2 linked regions of the Homo sapiens genome follow. The protein of the gene in region 2 purifies or fractionates together with the protein of the main gene of each other region. This does not show direct contact. Each region holds a gene or a part of one and is shown on either strand. Other genes may lie near its edges. The genes, in order: MOCS1 and UROS.

The links.
Region 1: the proteins of UROS (region 2) and MOCS1 purify together in Homo sapiens (affinity purification with mass spectrometry; 3 studies listed by BioGRID and IntAct, with this or other methods). This does not show direct contact.

Annotation. Positions count from the first base shown.
Region 1 is NC_000006.12:39,900,557-39,911,470, forward strand, and holds the end of MOCS1 (molybdenum cofactor biosynthesis protein 1), read right to left. Parts: intron 9,400-10,914; coding exon 9,279-9,399; intron 8,547-9,278; coding exon 8,499-8,546; coding exon of another isoform or gene 8,491-8,498; exon of another isoform or gene 8,484-8,490; intron 6,562-8,483; coding exon 5,801-6,561; 3' UTR 3,614-5,800; downstream 1-3,613. Other genes in the region: DAAM2 (disheveled-associated activator of morphogenesis 2), read left to right, coding at 746-916, 1,257-1,481. UniProt on the Homo sapiens protein: Isoform MOCS1A and isoform MOCS1B probably form a complex that catalyzes the conversion of 5'-GTP to cyclic pyranopterin monophosphate (cPMP).
Region 2 is NC_000010.11:125,803,877-125,814,997, forward strand, and holds part of UROS (uroporphyrinogen-III synthase), read right to left. Parts: intron 8,413-11,121; coding exon 8,338-8,412; intron 3,612-8,337; coding exon 3,537-3,611; intron 1-3,536.

The sequences.
Region 1 (10,914 bases), on a different chromosome or scaffold from region 2:
TTAGAATCTGACACCACAGCTCAGCAGTGGACATGATTACCATGCCTCTATCTGCTTCTCACACTAACGTGTCCATAGACCTCATGTATGGGGGTCTTATTAAAACATGGATTCTCATTTAGGAGGCCTGGGGTCTGAGATTCTGCATTTCTAACAGGAGGTGAATCTGCTGCTAGTCCATGAAGCACACTTTTGAGTAGTGAGATCTTTCTTAGAGGATACTGAGTGAGTTGAATTAACAATGGTAGCTCTCAGTAACTCAGAACAGTGCCTGGCCTATATAAATATAGCCACTGTTTTATAGCCACCAACTCATCTAACCCCCCAACACCACTATGATGTAGATTCTATTATTCCCATTTGACAGTGGAGGAAGCTGAGGCACAGAGGGGTTATTAACATAACTAGAGGATCTTTGAAGTTCTGAGTTCTGCCAGCCTCTTCCTGACCTCAGGAAGGGCTTCCCAAGGTCTATACCCCTGACCTCATGCCTACCCCTTACAGGCCCAGGGGTGGCTCTAAGGTGGACTGAGTGAGCCCAACTCTTTACCTGCCTCTCCTTAGCCTTGTCTCTGATCCTGATGATGATGGGGGTGTCTTCTCACCTCTTCCAGCCCTGCCCCCTGTGCCAACAGTCCCCAGCCTTGCGCTGGGCTCTGCTCTGGCTAGAACCCAGCTAACCTCAGGGGCTGAGCCCAGCATGCTCCAGGGCACTCTCCACCAATCCTGTTCTGTCCCTTGACAGTTCGCCAAGGCCTTGATGCACTTCGGGGAGCATGACAGCAAGATGCAGCCAGACGAATTCTTTGGCATCTTTGATACCTTCTTGCAGGCCTTCTCAGAGGCCCGGCAGGATCTAGAGGCCATGAGGAGGAGGAAGGAGGAGGAGGAGCGGCGGGCGCGCATGGAAGCCATGGTGAGGGGCAGTGCCAGGCCTGGGACTGAGGGGAGACGGGTGCTACTTGGGGAGAACACCCCCAAACTGGGGTGTGTGGGAGGAGGGCAGAGACTGAGGAACTGAGGAACACCATAGGGGTTGGATGTCAGCCCCAGGAGAGAGAAACTTCTTCCCAGCCTGAGGGAAGAGAGTGGTGTGAAGCTGGGGGCCTGTATGTCCTAGGCAGGAAGAAAGTGGGGCCAACAGATACAGGCAGGCAGCATGACCATGGCCTAGGAGTTAGCCCAGGGTTGGGGGGCTGCCCTGGCCTCAGCGCCTCTCCCTGAGAGGGTTCCTATCTTTGGCCCCCCGCCCGCAGCTGAAGGAGCAGAGGGAACGTGAGCGGTGGCAGCGGCAGCGGAAGGTCCTGGCTGCAGGCAGCTCGCTGGAGGAGGGAGGAGAGTTCGATGACCTGGTGTCGGCCCTGCGCTCTGGGGAGGTCTTCGACAAGGACTTATGCAAGCTCAAGCGCAGCCGCAAGCGATCAGGGAGCCAGGCCCTGGAAGTTACCCGGGAGCGGGCAATAAACCGGCTAAATTATTGACCTGGGGAACTAGCCACACAGGAGGCCGGGAGACAGGGACTGGTGAGAATGGGGCTGAGTGGAGGAGGTGGTGATATTTAAACCATTTGGTGCTTGGTTTAGAGCCTTGGGCTGGGTCCTGGGATGGGGGGCTGTGTGTGGCTGGACCAGGTGTCTCCCCACGCTTACCTTAAGGGGCTCCTCTTATCTCCCCTTCACATGATTCCTTCTGTGCCCTGGCCCCAGGTATTATTCTGAGGCTGCCTTGGATGGCCTCAGGCCAGGTAACCCCAGGCTGAAGGGGCCCTGCTCCCCATCCCCTACCATGGGCACCCATGTGCTGGCACAGAACAGTTCCAGATCTAGACTGGAGAGGTCCACAGCCTTGTCCAGAGTTCCTGTGTAGCACGGGGAGCAATGATGGAGGGAGCCCCTGAGAGGGAATCTGGTGAGGGAATCCAGACTCCCTTCTCTCAAGGGGAGGCTCAACAGAACATTGACCTGGGGGCAAACTTTCCTCTTGAATGGGAACAGAGGAGGCATTATATATTCTAGTTAGATCAGCTCTGGTAGGTTCCAGAGAACAGTCAATGTTGGAAGGATGATGCAGGGACCAAAGCCATCAGGACAGAGTAGCAGTGTCTGTTTCCCATGTCACAAGTCCTCTGGCCTCTCCCTGCATGTCTTAAGTATCTTTCCCTTCCTTCTCTACCCTCACCTCCATCCTGTCTACTAATCCACAGTCCTAGAAGACTCACCTTGGGTTTCCACAGCTATGGCTCACTACCAGGTGCTTGATGAATCTGGCGAGGGGCTCAAGACAGACCTCATGCATCACCACACCTCATGCCTTTTGGGCATCTCCCATGTCCCCATCTCCTGGACACCTGGCCATTGTTGTGAAGCCAGACAGTGACCTCAAATGTTGCCTTGGAGTCCCCTACAGCCCCTCAGCAGAGGGCAGCACTTGAATGCTTAGCTCCATCCCATAGTTCTCTACTTCATATAAATTGCTCAGGCCCTCCCACCCCTTCTCTAACACTAGCTTCAAGGCAGAAGCCACAGCAGCCTCTGTCCAGCCTGCAGGTGGCCACTTGGAACCATGTGTCCACTGGCGTTGGGGAGTTGGTTCCTGAGAGGTCTGAGGGCCAGAGCTGCCCTCTACATTAACATGCTGTCTCTAAGGGTGGCCCCTCCTCTCAGGCGTTCAGATGGTGCGAACAGCAGAGCAGGCAAGGGAAACTGGGGAGATGGGGATGGAGGAGGAAGGCTGATATCCTCTGGGGAGCACATCACCTGAAGGTGCCAAGGAGGAAGGCTGAGAGGGGGGCCACCCCATTTCTGGTACCCAATTTGGTTCTTCAGCCCAACTTGCAAGGGGTTCCTTCTGGTCCTCCCATCCACTGCCACCTTCCATTTTGTCCATCTCATGCTGGCCTTGGTGGATGGGATGGCTGTATCTAGACAAAATTTTTCTAAAACTCCATCAAGGCTCTTATTCAATACCACGTTCCGAGTTGGCCTTTCATCTTCTTTGAGACTGGCCCTGCCTAACCTCTACCATCAATGAGCTCTTGGCCCTTCTGCCCTTCCCTGTGTTTCTCACTTTCCAACCTAATCCCTGGCTCAGGGTTATTGCCAGTGGAGACTGGTGAGCTGGGCCTACTCTCAGCTGCCTATCTTCTGCCTTTCACTTGCATCCAACTCCTGGGGCTGGGACCGTAGTAGCTGCGGGGGGGAAGAAACACAGGGTCGGTGAGCCCAGCATGTGCGTTGGTTTGAGGGGGCGGGCGGTGTGTGTGTGTTCTGGTGGGAGGGATCTGAGCAAGTGCAAGCCTGGCTGACACAGGTGTGAAGAGGCCATCCTGGAACCCAGGTGAGGGCAAGATGAAGGCTTCCAGGCAGAACAGCTGCAGAGAGTTTGGCTATATGCATCTGCAGCCCCAAGAGCTCCCACTGCAAGACAAGTGTTGGGGAAGATGGGAGGTTGTGGGTGAGGCCTCTAAAGGTCCTCTCCCAAACTGACCAGGCTGATGTCAACCTAACCCCCTCAGGGGCAGGGAACAGGGGAGGGCTCCACAAGCGTGTCTGGCATTCCCACCCACCATGGAAGACTGGATACGCACCTGGAAACAAAAGGACTATGGAAGCTGTTCAAGATACATTTGATCTTCAGAAAAGCAGAATTTGGTTCAACTGTTGACAGAGGACACAAATACGTTGTTCCAGAGCTCAGCCTTCTCACTCTAAAAGAAAGATATTTTTCTATTTATTTTCTACATCTGGCCAGTGGCTCTGGTGCTAGATGCCACTGTAGCCAGATCTCCAACAGTGCCTTGGACCATGGACTCATACTCAACTGAGTAAGAAGGGGCTGGTGCCCAGTCGGGGTGGCTGAGCTGGTCCTTAATAGGTTGTTTCTTGGTCTTGCTTTCTTCATGCCCTCCCCACTGCTCCTGCCACCTTTAGATAAGTTTCTCTAGCTAATTTTGTGGCCAATGTAAAATTCGTCATCAACCTAACAAACACAACCTTCTCAGCAGCATTTCTCCCCTGTGATGGAAATAAAGTGTTTAGGGCAGTGGGAGGAGAAAATTCTCCAGGTGAATGGGGAAGGGTCTGTTCCAGCCTCTCCCTACTCCCATCCCATTTCCACCAACTGGGGAACTGTGACTATCTATCTCCCCCGACTTCTACCAGGGATGCCTTCACGCCAAGGCTGTTCTCACCAGCTGCCTCAGATGACAAATGAGGCTAATGGACATAATCTACAGTGTCCTTTTTCACTTGCACCTTTTTTATAAGAATATATTGTAATACTAAAAAATATTAAATTCATACCATCCCTACCCAGTCTGCCTTTAAACTTGTGCCTTCTTCCTATGAGGGGATCTGGGGTGGGCTGAGAGTGTGCTGGAGCCAGCTTGTACCAGCTCTGTGAGAACCAATTGTTTACATTTTCAGAAATTTTGCAAGCCATTTGACATACTGGTAGCTTGAAATTATTCAACATGGGAGTATTTATATCACAAATTGTCTTTTCCAGAGAGCTGGTTGTTTAATATTTGCCAGCACACCTTGGCATAGGGCAGAGGGGAGGCAGGCAGGGGGCACCACTGAGGACTCAAAGACATCCAAGTTAGAGAGCCCAGCAGGCCAGAACTGTGTGTGTTTGGGATGTGAGAACCAGGAGCCTCTAATTAATTGCCCTCTCTGATCTCTCTAATAGCTGGTAATGCAAGCAATGAGCTTTGAACACCCCTGGCCACCACCTGACAAAAGATTTCCCTTAGATGGTGCATTTCTATGCCCCCTACTCCACTTTATTTTCCCATAGCGGGGCTATACAGAGAGTACACCCTTAGGCCTTTCCAGGTCCCTCCTCTTCTTCCCTCAGGGAACTGTGTCTTGGGATAGGATTGATTGATTGATTGATAGGTGCAGCCTTCCCTGTGAAACTGCAGCAGCTCAGTGCCCTACCCACACAGTGTCTTCATTCTTGCATCTGCAAAGTTGGCATCGTAGCTTTATTTGTGCGCTGTGAGGGTGAAGGCAATCTATCATCAACTTTTCTTTCCCTGATATGCTCCAGAATAAAGAGGGGTGGGTGGAACAGCCGTGAACAGGGCCAGGTGTGGGCTGTGTGGTCTGGCAGGAGTCCTTAGGGCTATGGCCCATGTGTGCACATCCTGTTTCAGAAGAGGGGGGCCAGAGGAAAAGGGGCCAGCAGGACCGGGCAACTGTTAAGCTGAAAGGCTGCAAGTCTGATGGGACACAGACTTGGGCAGAAGGAGAGATGAAGTCAGGACAGGACAGGACAGGGCAGGGCTGCGGCTTCACAGACTTAGGGAGGCAGAGCTGCCGGGGAGAAGTTGGGATCCATTCTTCAGGCAAGCTTGTGCTTTGCTCTCCTCAAAGTGGGCTCCTCTGCTTAATGAGCGCTTAATCTCTCCCCAGGAAAGCAGGAGAAGAGAAAACCCAAAATGAGAAGGAAAAGTTCTGGGCTGGACTGTCGGAACCTGGTTGTCTGAAATAGTCCACAAAGAACATGATTTCTCAGTTATCTGGCATTGCTTGTTGCAGTCCCGCTCCCACGACCTTAGTGTCCTGGAAGGCTTAAGGGCCTGCTGGTATCCTCCCTATAGAAAGGAAGCCCCATTGGTCATTAGAGATCATCTAGCAGCAGGCCTGTTTGTTAGTAGTAGAGCAGGCTGACTTCGGGTTTACTGCTCAAGGTAAACAAACAGTGACTGTGATTAAAGGAACCTGACGTCTTTCCCTCAGCCTACATTGCATCCCAGCTCCAGGCCTGGGTGGGCCATGGGTGAGAAGGGCAGGTGCTAAGCCCGATGGAAGTCCCCCCGCTGACCACCAGTCTTGCTAATGAGCTTGATCTCCTCCAACACGATGTCCCTGCTGACAGCCTTGCACATGTCATACAGGGTGAGGGCGGCCACTGCAGCAGAGGTCAGGGCCTCCATCTCCACCCCGGTGGGGCCCCGAGCCCGGCAAGATGCCTGGATCTTCACGGCATGGCGTGTGCTGTCCAGCTCCAGCTGCACCTGGATGTGGCTCAGGGCCACGTGGTGGCACAGAGGGATCAGCTGGCTGGTCACCTTGGCTGCCTGGACTCCAGCCAGCTGGGCCACCACTAGGGCATCTCCTTTCTTGAGCTGGTTCTGCTGGACAAGCTTGAAGGCTACCGGTCCCAGGAGGACCACGGCTGAAGCCACAGCCACCCGCTCTGTGTCTGGCTTCCTGCCCACATCTACCATAGCTGCCCGTCCTTCCGAGTCCACATGAGTTAGTTGTTCTGAGGTTAGCTGGGGTCCTGAGGGGGCAGCAGAAGCCCAGGAACCTGGGCTAAGGCACTTTGAGTTGGCATCTGAGTCTGCACGGGAAGTGTAGTGTCTCTGAAAGGAGCCAGACCCCAGCCGCTGCTGGGCTAGAGGAGGGGTCTGGGGGACCCTGCATCCTTTCCATAAAGTGGCCACCTGGCTGGAGAAACTCATTCTGGGTCTTAGACCCTGAACATGGAGCGGGTCCCAGGAGAAAATGCTTGGATTGGCTGGTGGGGAATTGGGGAACATCAAAAATAACTCTGCAAGGCAAGAAGAAAAGAGAAGAAACACTAAGTCCAAAAGGCAATTCTTTTTCCCACCTCTACTCCCCAACCCTCTCCCTATCCCACCTCAAGTTCTCTTTCATACCGGGGAAAGAGGAATGAAGAACAAAAAGCATAGTGGGACAAGACAAAGTAGAAGATCCACAGATAGATGGCACCCAGAGTCCAAGTTCACAGCCCTTCTCACCCAGTGATGTACAGGGTAACAGCCCTCCTAGAAACTGCTGTGCCACCGTGGCACAGGGTTCCCTCCACATGAAAACCTTCTCAATTCCCAAGTTCTCTCAAGCAGCACCAAGTTGAGGCCTGGATCACATGACCTCTGAATGTCCCTTCATTTTCTTAAAACTAGAGCTAGGTCTCACTCTAAATTACCAATTACACCTATTTTTATCTTCACATTCTCCATGAAGAGTTAATATAACCACTTAGTTTACAGACAAGATAATAAGGGGAATTTGTGATCTACTTAAATGTTTTTCAAGTCCCCTGAAGCACATGAGAAGCACATACAAACTGACGGGCTAATTCAGATGGTGCAGAGGGCCTAGGGAATGGTGCAGGCTCTTGTTACTCAAAGGGTGGTTGGCTTATGGACCAGCAGCACCAGCAGCACCAGCACCACCTGAGAACTCACAAGAGATGCAGAATCCCACCCCAGACCTTCCAAGTCAATCCAAAAGGACAAAATCCCCAGTGATTCACATGCACATGAAATTCTGAGAGGCCCTGTCCTAGGCAACTCTTGGTTGTATAGAAAGCAGACTGGTTACTCAATATCTCTGAAAGTATGAGGCAAATGCTCCCCCAGCTTCCCACTTCGCATCATACTCTAAGCCCCAGACATGTCAATGTCAGAGGGGCAGCCTCCCTTCTGGGGAGATGCCATCAAGGCCATGAAGGTGCCTCAGCATGGGTCAGGGCCCAACAAGAGGACTTGGATGCTGGGGGTGGGAGGAGAGGAGATGAGAGTCTTCTTCCCAGTGGCAAGCTACCTTTGCTTTCCCGGGCAGCCAGTGGGCAAAGATGGTCCTTGGGCTGTCTCTAGCCTGCCTTCCCCTCTGGGCCACTGAGTTCCCTCTGCTCTAACCTCTAAAGAAAGGATCTTTCCTCTCATCTTTTCTCCCCCCTGCTTTTTCTTTCCTAGTGGCACAGTTCAGGGGGCTCAGAACTGACTGCGAGCAAAGGGTCAAGGCCTCACCTGCTATAATCTGGGCACCGTGACAGAGGGGCAACAGCCACCCTACAGCTCCTCAGTGACCAGCCCAGCCCCCAGGGGTAGGAGACCACATAAGGACTTAAAACCAGGGGGCTTTTGTTTGAAGCATCCTACACACACGATGATACATCCTATGCAGATGTTCCTGAGAGTTAAGGAATTGGGAAGTTGAGGTCTTGGCCATCATTACCTCATGTTACATGTGAGTAACATTATTAACTTGCTGCCTCAAGATCTGCCCAGCACAGACGTCTGGCCACACATCCACCCGTGGGGGCTCATGGTCCAGATACACCGTGCATGGATCATTGGGTACTACAGAGGACACCTGTCACATTATCCAAATGGGAGATTTTAGAGCCGAGGAAAAGGCCTCTGTTTTAACCAGGATTTCAATTCTCAGGGAGCCACTAACTTAGTGATCATTAAATCTGGCAGACCATCCCCCTGCTCTGATGTCTGGTGAGACAGAAGGATCATTTCTGTGGCAGGTATAGTAAGGGGGATCATGAACAGTGGGGGAAGAAACAGTAAAACCTTGAAGGTTAAGAAGAGATGAAGGAGGAATAGAAGAAAAACAAGGATGAGAAATCAGCATGAAATGCAGGAGCTGGGGGTGCCTATGGCACGGCTCCCACCCCACGAGATCCCCAAATGACAAGGGTGAGTGGTTACGTACTGATGGGTCACCCACCGATGAGGATCATGGGCCGGTTCTTCATCTGGGAAATACTGAACATGCCTGGGGTGAGGGAAAGATGGGGAGGGAGAGGAAAGCAGGGGAGGGGGAGAGGGAGAGGAAAGCAGGGGAGGGGGAGAGGGAGAGGAAAGCAGGGGAAGGGGAGAGGGAGAGGAAAGCAGGGGAGGGGGAGGGGAGAGGGAGAGGAAAGCAGGGGAGGGGGAGGGGGAGAGGGAGAGGAAAGCAGGGGAGGGGGAGGGGGAGAGGGAGAGGAAAGCAGGGGAAGGGGAGAGGGAGAGGAAAGCAGGGGAGCGGGAGAGGGACAGGGCGGGGAGAGGAGAGTTCACTGAAACAAACGCGCTTGACAGCCCCGAGCACATGCACTCAGCTGTATGACAAAAGGCCCCCACATGTGCACTGCGAGGTCGCTCAAGGCTGAGCCCAAAGAACAGTCTGTGGACATCAGGACCCTGCCCTCCCTAAACAGAAGGCCACGTGTGGGATGAGAAAGAAGCAATGACACCCCCTTCTCCCCACCTAGTAAAACAGCCCAAGAGAATCTGGGGTCCCCTCTCCTGTGCAGCCTCTGCTATGACTTTTCCCCATGGAAGGAGAAGCATCACTGTACCCTGAGTCCAGAGGGCCAACAGCAGTGAGTGGTAGTGGGGATGATGCTGACTCTCGCCAGCTTCCCCCTAGGTGTTCCTTGGTCATCTCACCCCACAACTCCACACCTCCCTCCCAGGGACAAGGCCCACTCACCATCCAGGCCAGCCCTCCCCACCCTGCACTTACCTGCATGCTGCCGCTTCTTCCTGCCCACAGCAGCCCCAATGATTCTCAGCAGCTCCTGCTCAGAGGCCCCAGCTCGCAGGTGATCCCGCAGGGATACCTCAGAGTTTCCAAAGAGGCAGACCTACATGTGGGTGAGGACAATATGCCTTCCTTACCCCTGAGCCTTGGCCTCCTGGCCTCTGAGGAGCTAACTCCTTCCCTGGTTCTCCCTCCGGGAGGAGCACCAGGGCCCAGGCCTCCCATGGCAGGGCCCCTAGCAGTGAGAGACAGAGGTGCTGTAGGGAGGTCAGAGAGGCTAGAAGAGCAAGAGGCAAAATTCGACTTCCCAATACCTATATGTGAGTTACAGTCATACTTCCCTCAGTGTATTTTTAAAAAACTAAGTAGATGCCAACAGAGATAGCATGTAAAAATCCAGATCTCTACCTTCTGAGACACTTGCTGGAATGGCCACTTTATCACCATGAGAATGGCCCCCAACCAGTTGGAGCTGTGTGTGTCCTGGAAGTCTCCTACCCCTGTTGTGGCACACACATCCCATTTCACCTCAGCCCCTCCAAGTCCCTTGTGGACATCACCTGACTGCCCTGTACCTATTTGAGTCTGTGATCACTGCTTGGAAGCTTCAGCTGAGGGCTGCTGGGCATGACAACTTAAGGTCAAACTTCACTCAATGCTTCTCAGCTTCTGTAAGAGGGATGGATGAGACAGCCCCAGAAATCAATATACCTACCATCCTTCCACCAAAACTTATGAAGCATCTACTCTGTGCCAGCTCTGCACAAGGCACTGTGGCCACAGAGAAAGAAGAATGTCTGAGAAGCTTCTGCAGGCAGAGACCACTGGAGAAGATACCAGTGAAATCTAGGATAGGTCTAACTGCTTCAGCGTGCCTGTTATTCCTCATGCCTCGCTCCCCAACCAGCCTCCAGGTTCCCTTCTCTGCAACAAAGAGGTTCCTCCTGTGGACTTCACCTGGTACCACCCTCCCCTCCCGCCCCCCAGCTGGCTCCTGCCTGGGAGATCAATGGGTAAAGGGAAAGAACAATCTTCAGGCATTTCTCCCCTACTTCCTCCCTGCTTTGATGTATCTGGCAGCAGCTGCTTCTCTGCACAGCTCAAGTGCCAATGAGGTGGCCTCTCTTCTAAGGCTCCAGCCCTTCCTGGGCCCCAGTGACATCAGTGCCTCCCCCTTGCCCTTCCTAAGTGGGAACAGCACTTTGCTGCTGCTGGTCCCAAGTACCTCAATATCCTTTATTGGTTCCCTTAATCTTATATGTTATAAATAGCTTCTTCATTACATTCTCTTCAGAATCCCACCTTCCATTTCCTGCCAAGACCTCACAGATACAGATACCACCTCTAGTCCAAGTCAATTCCGTATCTCCAGCCCAGAAAAACCCCCAAGCTTTTCAGCAACCTGCTGGATGGTTCCTTTTGGATTCAAACTGCATGCATCTAAACCCAACCCACCATCATCACCCTCCCACAATTGTAAAAGATCCCAAGGCCTTCCAGCTACCTTGATGCCTTCCTCCTCTCCTTCCGCGAACATTACCAAGCTCTCTGAGTCTTCCTTCCCTTCAATTCACACTCTAACATATTTGGAGAACCACTGAATGGCCACCTAATTGGT
Region 2 (11,121 bases):
GAGGGCCTGCCCTTCTCTGTGGAGAGGAGGCCATGCCTTTTGTACAGACTTTCCTGAAGACCTCTGCCTTCTTTTGGACACCCTGACATGACACTGTGATACAAGAGGAAATATTTCGTTTTCCTCCCTGTTCCAGGCACAGAGCTTCTGAAACTCTTGGAACTTCCCATTAGAGGTGAGAGGAGCATCTTTTGTTATTCATGATAAACCCCTTTTAACCATACTGGAGTTTATGCTAATGAGGTGACTGGTGGTGGCCCCTAGAAAGCTTCAGGATGGGGGCTGAAGGCCACACAGAGGATCACAACCATGTGATCAAAGGGTTGGAGATGGAGCTAGTCACCAGGGGTCAATGATTTAATCAATGGTGCCTACATAATGGAACCTCCATAAAACCCCTCAACTATGAGTTTATAGAGCTTCTGGGTTGGTGAACACATCCATGTGCCAGGAGGGTGGCGCACCCCAACTCCATGGGGGAAGAAGCTCCTGTGTACTCAGGACCCTTCCAGACCTCTTCATCTGGCTGTTTATCTGTGTCCTTGTTATCTCCTTTATAAAAATCAGTACACATAAGTGTTTCCCTGAGTTCTGTGAGCCATTCTAGCAAATTACTGAACCTGAGTAGGGAGTCGTGAGAACTCCTGACTTGTAGCCAACTTGGACAGAGGTCCCTCAGCATCCAATACTTGTATCTAAAGTGGGGGACAGTTTGCTAAGACTGAGCCCTTAAAGCTGTGGGGTCTGGGTTAATTCTGGGTAATGTCAAAATTAAGTTGTAGGACACCCAGCTGTTATCTGGAGCATTGGAGAATTGGTCATTGATATGAGGAAAAACCCCACCTATTTGGTATCCTGAGTGTTTTACAGGTAGAAACAGGTATCTTAATAGCAGGCCCACCATACAAAAACTGTTCATACCTCTTCTGGTCACTTAATCCACCCTGCCTTATCACGGTTACTGATGTATATGTTCCCCACCCTACCCCACCTCCAGCCCCAGCTAGGCTGGGAACTTCCAGAAGACAGGAATGGAGTTAAACTCCTCTTCAGTCCCAACGCCCTGCAAAGGGCCTGGCACACAGGTGCTCCTGGGTAAACATCTGCCGAACCATATTGAACTGACTTGTTCTCCTGTGATGTGGGAAGCAATATGGGGGGTGGGGCAAGAGAGGCGTCAGTCAATGCATTAATACCTGAAAGCCATGTCCGAGCCGATGAACGCACATCCACTGAACTAAGGAGTGCACAGGCTCAGGATTGCCAAGTGGCCGAAACACTCTGGGACTACAGCTTATTCATCTGAGTGGCCAGAAAAGGCCCGTGTAGTTCCTCTAAACCGGAGGCTCCTTAAGCCTCTGCCCACCAGATTCAAACACAGAGTCAAGCACACTTACGTCTTCATCCCTGCAGGAGCCCCAGTCACTGTAAATCAGAGTGGATGGAGGTGCTTGGCCAGCATCTCCTTGAGAGCAGGTCGGCATGGAGCAGATGCCAGTCAGGCCTCTGAATGTGACAGGCCATGGGATGAGCAGTGGCCTTGCTGTGCTGAGTGTGAATTCCAGCCTGCCACTTCATAGCTTGTGACCTTGGACAAGATCTGGGCCTTGGACCCCCAAGAGTCTCTATAGCAGCACAGTCAGAAAGAACTTTTGGTGATGATGGGAATGTTCTGTGTGGTCCAATTTGGTGCCACTGGCCACAGTGACAAGTGAGCTTGTGAAATGTGCCCAGTGTGACTGAAGAACTAAATTTTCAATTGTATTTAATTTCAATTAATTTACATTTACATTTAAATAGCCGTATGTGGCTAGTGGCTACTGTACTGGCCAGCACAGCTTGCAGTGGACACGATTCTGACTTCATGGGGTGATGGTGAAGATTAAATGACATCATACAGGCCACGTGTCTATGTACCCGAGACACGCTGGGCACTCAGTAAATGCTAGTCTTCAACGTTAACACCGAGCATGTAGTGACTCAGGAAAGGTACAACGAAGTTATTTTTAAAAGAAATTAGAAAAGAGAAAAAAGGAGAATTGGAGAACTTGGAAAGGATCCACTGAGCCCAGCAGTATCTCTGCTGTTCCCTGACTGCTCACTGCCGCCCCCAACCCAGACGACTCTGTCAGGGGCCTAATTAAGCTCCAGGGATCCTCAGACCACAGTGTAGAAAAAGACGCAGGACTTTCTCTAGAACAAGCTCCCAGTAACACAAAGAAAAATATAAGCTAGAGAACCTTCAGGCAACAGCAATGACTTACGGCAGGAAGACTTGTAAGTAATGCCTTATAAGACGTTAGTGTACAAGTTTGCACGTCAAGAAAGGCCAACATCACCTTTAGGAGTATTTTTTTTAAATAACATAAATACTTTGTTTTACCAGAAACAAAACCATCTATCACTGTTTCAGAAGCCATAAAGAGACCTATTTAAGGTATACTCTCTCCCTATACCACTCATCCTGATCTCACCACCCAAGGGCCAAGGCATATACCCCTCTCCTGGGACCACCTTAGAGGAAACTCTCAGCTGTCAGCAGTTCATCTGACCCTGGCCTCCCAGCTCAGCAGACACTCAAGCAATTTTAGAAAGGGGTCAGAAAACTCTAGCCTGGGGTCAAAGCCAAGCCCATTGTTTGTTTATTTCCTATGGCTGCTCTCATGCTTCTGTTGCAGAGATTAGTAGTTCTGACAGACCATTTGCCTGCAAAGCCCAAAATATCCTTAACAGATGAAGTTTGCCAGCTCATGATCTCTAGGAAAGCCTGGATTTCCTCCTCTTCAGCAATCTAAGATAAGATAGTTCTACTTCATGCTCTCATGGGGGTGTATGATCTTACACCTACAGCAGAGGAGTCAAATGACAAGGGTGTAAGAGCTTGCGGTTGTACTGGACATTCAGGGAACAGAGAGGAAGGGAGATGCACCTTAGAGGTGGGGCTGCCCTACAAGTAGACGGTCAGCCTTCCCATCCCTCTTGCTCCAAGAATTTTTGCCTATGTATCTTCTGAAGCCTACAATTCCATAATTAGTTTAAGACTAAGTCCCCATTTAAATGCTAACACCCCTAGAACAAGTGCCACTTTAAATCCAAGTCCACAGGCAGCCCAATCATGAGTCAGTTCTTTACCTGGGAGCAAGCTGGGAGAGGGAATTCAGAGACAGAAGTAGCTCCTGAGAAGGGAAAGGACAGTCCTCAGTAAGGGGAGAGTACCCACTCACACCTCCTGCCTCTGCTCTCTTTGGAATCCCTCAAGTGATCTCTCCACTGTTTTTATCTCCCAAATGTTTTATTTTGTGTTATGTTCAAGTCAAGTTCTTTGGTACAGGGGGTAGAAGGAAGTGGGCTAAACCTCACAAAGTATAGACATACACAAATACAAATAGGCTATGCTCCCAGAGTGGGTTATACGATGCTCACCAATCAATCTCACCACCAAGAATGCACTGAGGAAATATTCTTTTCCCTAGGTAGTGGTTGTGAGGTCAACAAAAAATAAATGGCTTCATTTGGAGTGATGTTTTTCTACTTACTGGAACAAATATATTCTGCAAGCTTTTCTGCATTTCCACAGGTTTCTCCTTCTGTATCCAGGCCAATTTTACTCACTGGAAAACCACAAAGAAATGTATTTCTTAACACGGTTATTGAAGTCCTTTTGTTCCAGCGTTATTTTTTAACGTGCAAATACACAGGTATGCAGTTTACAAATCACATAGAGGATGTCTTTTCTTGAAAGCTACTGAGGGAAGATCACAAGTGTCTGTTCAGAAGAGAAAGCATCAGGTCCTGGTACCTGCACCCCAGTTGTGTAGGCTGGGTAAGTAAGGCCTTAACTAGCTTCCCTGAGCCCCACATAGCTCATCTACAAGAGGGGGAAAAACCAACCACATGGAACTGTTTTAAGGATCGTGTCAGATAATAAGAGCAAAGTGCTTGCCATCTAGAAGGTGCTCAACAAAGGCTGTTTTCTCTTCAGTCAGGAAGGAGATGATGGGCATTTGGTACTTTTTGCAGGAATCGGCATTACAGAGCCTTCATTTTTTTGGGAGGATGTGGCCAGACCACATCCAGAAAGGTGTTATGGCTTGACATGGCCAGACTAAAATGGAAGGAAGGGGAGGAAAGGTTTCATAATAATCTGCTAACAGGGACCCACAGCGCTACAAATACAAGTCATTTAGGATGAGGGGCTATACCAGCACTTTTGTGAGATCCCTATTCATGAACCAAGTAAGAAGCTAACAGACTCAGGCTCCCCCTGCACTTTTCCAGACAGCAAACACTTGGCCACTCCACAAAGCGTGCTGATGAAGGGAGGCCTAAGGGACTGGCTCAGTCAACACTGCTACCTGCTCACAGGAATGTGGAATGCCTCTGAGGAAGGAAGTGCTGTGGGCTTTCCACTTAGGAGTCACACAGAGCCTGGTTAGTAACAAATGGCAGCTTTAATAAAAACACCAGCAGCTTTTAACTTATGGATCATTAAAAACATGCTGAATCAAAAGAAAAATAAAGCTGTAACTCAGTTCAGGAACTAAGCCCTTGCTTATGCTACAGTGGCAACCGAGGCTGGACCTCCTGTCTGAGCTTAGAAGAGCTAAACGCATCAAAAACAAAAGTAAACAAAAAAACCTGTAAAAATCCCACAGGAACTGAACTGAGACATAAGAACTTAGCAGTGACGCTGGTAATCAATATTGACATAAATATGCATTTTTCCCAAGTAATGAAACAATAATAACCATAACCAGAACATTAACTCTCATATATAGCTTTGCTGATCACAAAGTAAGCACTTGCTCATTTGATCCTCACACCACAACCCTGTGAACAGAACAATTACTACTGTACTTGAGAGGGAAGGAAGCTATTAAGCAGTGGCCAGCTCTATTTGTGAGGGCAGAGACTGGGGCTACCCGGTCCACCCCACAGTCCACAGATGGCTCTCAAGAAATGTTTGGGGAATGCATATTTGGTCTAAGGTCTCAGTCCCTGCATGTGGCAAGACTGACTCTGCTTCAAGTCAGTACAACATTTCAACCAACACTCTGGCTGGGTAAGCCCATCTTAAGGGCCCTGCCCAAGTAAAAGCTGACAGTGAAACTTCAAATTGTCTCCAACTGTGTTAAATAAACCTGCCAGAGAGTATTTTTTATATTTGAGAGGTTAAGACACTGACTGCCACAGTTAAAGGGACTATAAGAATGTACTACCAAGTTTGGCTAATTTTTGTTATTTCTGGTAGAGAAGAGATTTCACCATGTTGCCCAGGCTGGTACAGTCTTTCTGTGTTATGAATTCCAAGTTGTTAATTGCTAAGCTATCTTCTGTGACATCACTGGTCTGGGTTTACAAGGCCAAGCAACAGTGCCTACTAAATGGCGCCCAGGTCCAACTTTGCAATCAGATGGGAAAGTTGGGGCACCTGACCTTTGGGCAGCCAAATGGAAGGCTTTCCTAGGATATGGCTGGCTGAGTTGCAAGGTATCAAACCACAAGCCAACCATCTTTGCTTTTTCAATAAAAATTAAAATGTTATTAAAATATGCATATATTATTGAACCAAATAATGTTCTCAGGAGATTTTATGTAGACCAAGTACAGTAAGTCCTCACTTAATGTCAACAATAGATTCTTGGAAATTGCCACTGTAAGTGAAACGACATACAGCAGGTCCTTGAATAACATCGTTTCATTCAACATGTTTTCATTACAACATTGATAAGGAAAAAAAAATTTGTTTCATTATATATCATTTCACTTGAAGTGGCAGTTTCCAAGAACCTATCAACAATGTTAAGTGAGGACTTTCTGTATAATGTTACATAGCATGTACTTTTGAAAAAAATTTATTTTCAAATAAATAGAGACAGGGTTTCACCATGTTGCCCAGGCTGATCTTGAACTCTTAAGTTCAAGTGATCTGCCTGCTTCTGCCTCCCAAAGTGTTAGGATTACAGGTGTGAGCCACTGCACCCAGCCAGCATGTACTTTTTGCCATCTATTATTAATCAATAATACCTGTAAAATTATGTCAGCGTGCAACATTTATAAAGAAATACTGGCATCTTCTCTCACTGGACTTCCACACCGAAATCCCTTGCTATTCACTGGACCCTTGTTTTCATTTCTACTTCAAGAAAAATGTCTACCTTGTCTTCTCTTTGCTTCAAATGTCCAACTTTCCTAACCTGATTCCCAGGCTCTAGGGAGCCAGGGGTGGCTCTTGACTAGAGGGCTTGTGGGCAGTGGAAAGTGGCTCCTAATGATCCCTGTGATCCATGCCCCTGTGTCATCCCTCCGCTTGAGTGTGGGCTGGACTTACTTGATTCAAGCCAAAAGAAATGGCAGAAGAAATGGATGCCACTTCCAAGATTAGGTTATAAAAAGACTGTGGCTTCAGTGGTAGGTGCTCTCTTTTGCTCTCTCTTGGATTGCCTTGCGACAGGGGACGCCAGCTGCCATGTCTTAGGTAGCCCTCTCGGGAGGCCCATGTGAGTGAGCTGGGAAGCAGATCTTCTGAGGCCACTGACAGCTATGTGAGTGATTTTGGAAGCAGACCCTCCCCTAAGTCAAGCCTCAAAATGTCTGTAGCCCTGACCACCAGCTTGACCATGGCCTGGTTACAGAGAAGCCCACTAAATCATGCCCAGATTCTGGCCCACAGAAACATTGAGATGATAAATGCCTGTTTCTAGCTAGTAAGTTTTGGGGTAATTTGGGGGTAATTTGTTACGCAGCAAAGATAATACATTGGGCCTGGTCTCCTCCCAGCTGTTGGTGCTCAACTTCTGATAACTCTCCAGGCTCCTGCTGAGATTCTAGTTGAACAGAAACCTCAGAGAGTTCAAGCAATGCCTTGTCCCTGTACCTACTCAAAAGAGCTCCTTTGTACATTATTATATCTGAAAAGGTGAGCTAAAATAGAATGTTCAAAGTTGGGTGATTGACTTTCATGTCAAGGAAAAATGTGGTTTCCTTTCAAAGACATTTTTAAAAGTTACAACACTTCTAATTTCCTCTCTCCTTTGATAATATGTTCCCTGCATTTAGAACATGTCCTTTTCCTTCACAACTGAATAAACAGGGACCAGACTGAGTCCAGTGAGTGCCTAACTGAGACCAAGGCCCTGCTGCTTGTGCTGCACTTGATATGGTCCACTCTCAGCCACTCTAAGTCTCAAGACATAGATGCTCATCATTCATTGTATCACCATAGTCTTTTTTCTCATTTTCTTCTCATATGACAGGACAGTGACAGCAAAATGCATAGTGATGCTACCGAAATCAAACTGAAGGGGATGTGATGCTCAAAATGTTTGCTTATCAGTGAATGTGTGAAAGTTTGGAAAATGTATAAATATACTGTATATTTGATAGTTGAGTTTTTGGTAGGAAATATAGAGAATGAAAGAAACTGGCTATTTTCTTTCCTCTTCTCATTCAGGAAAAAATGATAAAAGAAAGTAACAAGCAAATTCTTAACTTATTTTTGGAGAGAGATGTGCGGGAGGGAAGATGGTTTCCTTGGCAACCAAGCCACTAATTCCCTTTCCCTGGCTGATCTGCTGAGCTTGTGGTAAAAGTCATGCTGCTCAGAAGATCTAGGAATCATCTTTTAATTAGCTTAGCAACTCCCAACTGGTTTCTTCCCCAGCCTCATTTTGTTCTCTGGAAAATGTGCTTTTAATTCTTAAACTATTTTCACTCATATTATACATTCCTCTAATATTTTCAAATTCACTGGACAAATTGAACTGTTCTGAAACAAAGTTACAGGCTAATTTATGACAATTGCTAAGCATTGTTTTAAGTATTTAAAATGCTCAATGTTAATTTTTAATGATTACTATTTACATTTTATGCTTTAAGAAGAATAAATAGACTCAAGACTGGAAAAATGCACAAAATATTAAGAAAACCAAAAAAAAACAACTATGATATCACTATCTGGAGATTTAGGCTTTTAAAAAAATTATAGTAAAAATATAACATAAAATTTGTCATTTTAATCACTAAGTGCATAATTCAGTGGCATTATGTACATTCACAATGGAATTAGTCAGCCAAAGGGTACAAACATTTTAATAAAGCTTTTGCATACATACTGACCAAGTGGTTCTCAAAAGATGTAAACCAATTTTTAATGCCATTTGGAAATGTTTGATTATATTTGTTTCACTGCATTCTTATCAGTAGTATCGTATACTTAATTAATTTTTGCAAATTTAATAAGCAAAAAATAATATTTTTAAACTGAGTTAAACTGTTTTTTAAAACTGAAAAGGCTAAGCCATTTTTTGTTGTTTTATTTTTACCTTGACTCCTTACCTAGAGAAGCAGTAGCATTTCCAACCACATACACTGACTTGGCATTCCATTTTTCTTTCAGAGACCTTTCCCAGACTGTAAAACATGAAATGATATGTGAATTGCAAATACCAAAGTGGCCATTTGGACTGTTGCCCAAGGCTGCTTGTTCACCCTAAGAAACTGTGAGCAAAGCAAACTATTAGCAACCAAATGTAAAAAACAGCATCTCAAACTAAAATTCCATTTTCACTTTGTTCATGTTTTATAGGCAATTTTTAAAAAATTGCTTTCATAAATGTTTTAGTACTCCTTGCTTGAAATATTAGCCTATCTCCACAGTTGGTACTAGAAGAATTTTAATGGGAACCACGAAATCAACATAACTTGAAGAATTAATCTGCATAGTGAAATCAAAAATTTAAATCTAGACTTTTAAAGAAAAAGACACTGGTCATTTAAAAAAAGCAACTTAAATGTCTAACAAGGAAATCCAATTGGTTTATTTGGGACATAAATCTGAAAGCAGTCAACAAACTGTAATCTCAGAGGAGAGGGTTCATTTATCCATTACACCAAAGTAAAAATAATAAATTTCAGGTCAATTAACAAACACAATTTGATACAGAATATTATCATTTTATGATCAAACAAAATCTTTAAATATAGATTAAAGAAACACAAAGAGAAAATGGATTGTATAAATATATCATAAAGCTACTGGGCATTCATTACATTTTTAGAAAACAGGGAAATAATGGTTCTTCCTTTCCAAAATCTGGTTATGAACATAACTTTCCCTTAAATTCAAGAGCATTCCTCTACCCTTTACATTAAGGGAAATTCCCTTTGAAATGGTAACCAAAGATTGAGTTCCACTTTGCTTCCTACCCCATAAATATCAATAGTATTTATTCAAAAGTTATCCATAGCATGTAAACAAACTACTTTCCAAGCCTCACAGCAGAACAACTGGAGTGAGCACTGGGTGGAGTCAGAAAGCCTTCCACAGAGCCAGCTCTGCCCCTTAACGTGTGTGTCCCAGGTAAGTCAGTTAACGCACCTCGTCTGTTTCTTCATCAAGGTAACTGGGATTAACTACACTCCTACTGCTTATTCCCTATGGTTGTTGTGAGAATCAAAATAAGAAAATACATGGGAAAATGCATTTTAAACTTTATTATAAAGCACCAGAAAGAGTTATAGTGACCTTTCTAGGGTTTTCCTCTTTTTCATTATCTTCATCCTCAAAACATACACAAAAAGAAAAAATACAACTGCAAGAAAAAGCACCCAGAGCACCACTGGGAAAGAGTACACATGCTTCCCCATCTAGCGTATAATGGCACAATCGCGGCTCATACAACCTCTGCCTCCTGAGTTCAAGTGGTTCTCGTGCCTCAGCCTCCTGAGTAGCTGGGACTCCAGGCATGTGCCACCACGCCCAGCTAACTTTCGTATTTTTTGGTAGAGATGGGGTTTCACCATGTTGGCCAGGCTGGTCTGGAACTCCTGACCTCAAGTGATCTGCCCACCTTGGCCTCCCAAAGTGCTGGGATTACAGGCATGAGCCACTGCGCCTGGCTGGCTCTGAGTTTCTTAGGTTCTCACGCTTTCTTTTCAACAAGAGGTGAATGTGTGTATGAAATCACCAAGAAGGTGGGATGTTTAGGCTACAGCGAAGCCTGGTTAAATGTGGAGACAGAATAACCAAAACTCACCACTGTCACTTACTCCATGCCCACTCTGCTCCAGGTAATGTCCTGGATGCTTTCCTTTGGGACTCAGACTCTGCAGCTTGAATCCTGCACTTGTGCTTTACACATTGTGGGGGCCTGGAAAGTTCCATACCCTTTGTTCTCCAGGGTCCTCATCTGCCAAGTGAAAATACTAAGCACATCTATCTCACAGGAAAAAGTATTCAGGACAGAGTCTCGCACAGAGTGAGCATTCAGTAAGTTCTACCTAACTAATAGTCTACTGTTAGTAGATAATCCCATTACTATTAGTAGTAATCCCATGATGAGAGGTCAAGGAACTCATTAATGTCCAAATGGCTGCATAAACCCAGGACTAACTCACTCCAAAGCCCTTGCATAACCACTCTGCCCGCTGCCTCCGCTCATCAGTGTAACTGTGGAGGTGGGTGGCCCGAGTGTGAGGCCTGGCTCTGCACTGACTTGTTCTGTGCTTACTATCCTGGCCTCAGTTTTCTCAATGGTAACATAAGACATAAGATCATAGCAATGTGTGCCTCTGGATTGTTATCTAGGGTTAAGTGGGGTAATGAACGTGAAGTATTCATTACACAGGGTCTGACATACAACAGGCACTCCATAATTGTTAGCTAGGAAGCTGTTCAATTGCATTTATTAAGGTGTTTGCTCAGGCTGAAACCCAGGGTTCTGTTAATGGGCACTGCCATTTTCATACTGTTCTAATAGTGAGGGACGGAGGTGGGAAGACAAGTCAAAGAGGTGACTGGGTCACTAAGTGCCTGACATGGTGGCACTGACCATTTTCTCATAGTTAGATTTTTTCATCATCTCTCTTTCAGGAAAGTAGTATTTATCCTATTTTCAGATGATACCTTCTAAGGGGATATATCAGTCCCTAGGAGGTGAACAACGAATAGACAGGGGAAAGTCCTCCTCAGGGTCATCTGTCTGGGAGTTTAGGAGATAGCCCTGTTCTCCTGTTTCCCAAGGCAGAGTCTGTGACCTGATACCACTAAGCACTCACTTCTCTTAGAAGTGCAGCTGCTTCTGGAATTTAGTCTCCCAGCAGGAGAAATAAGAGTAAATA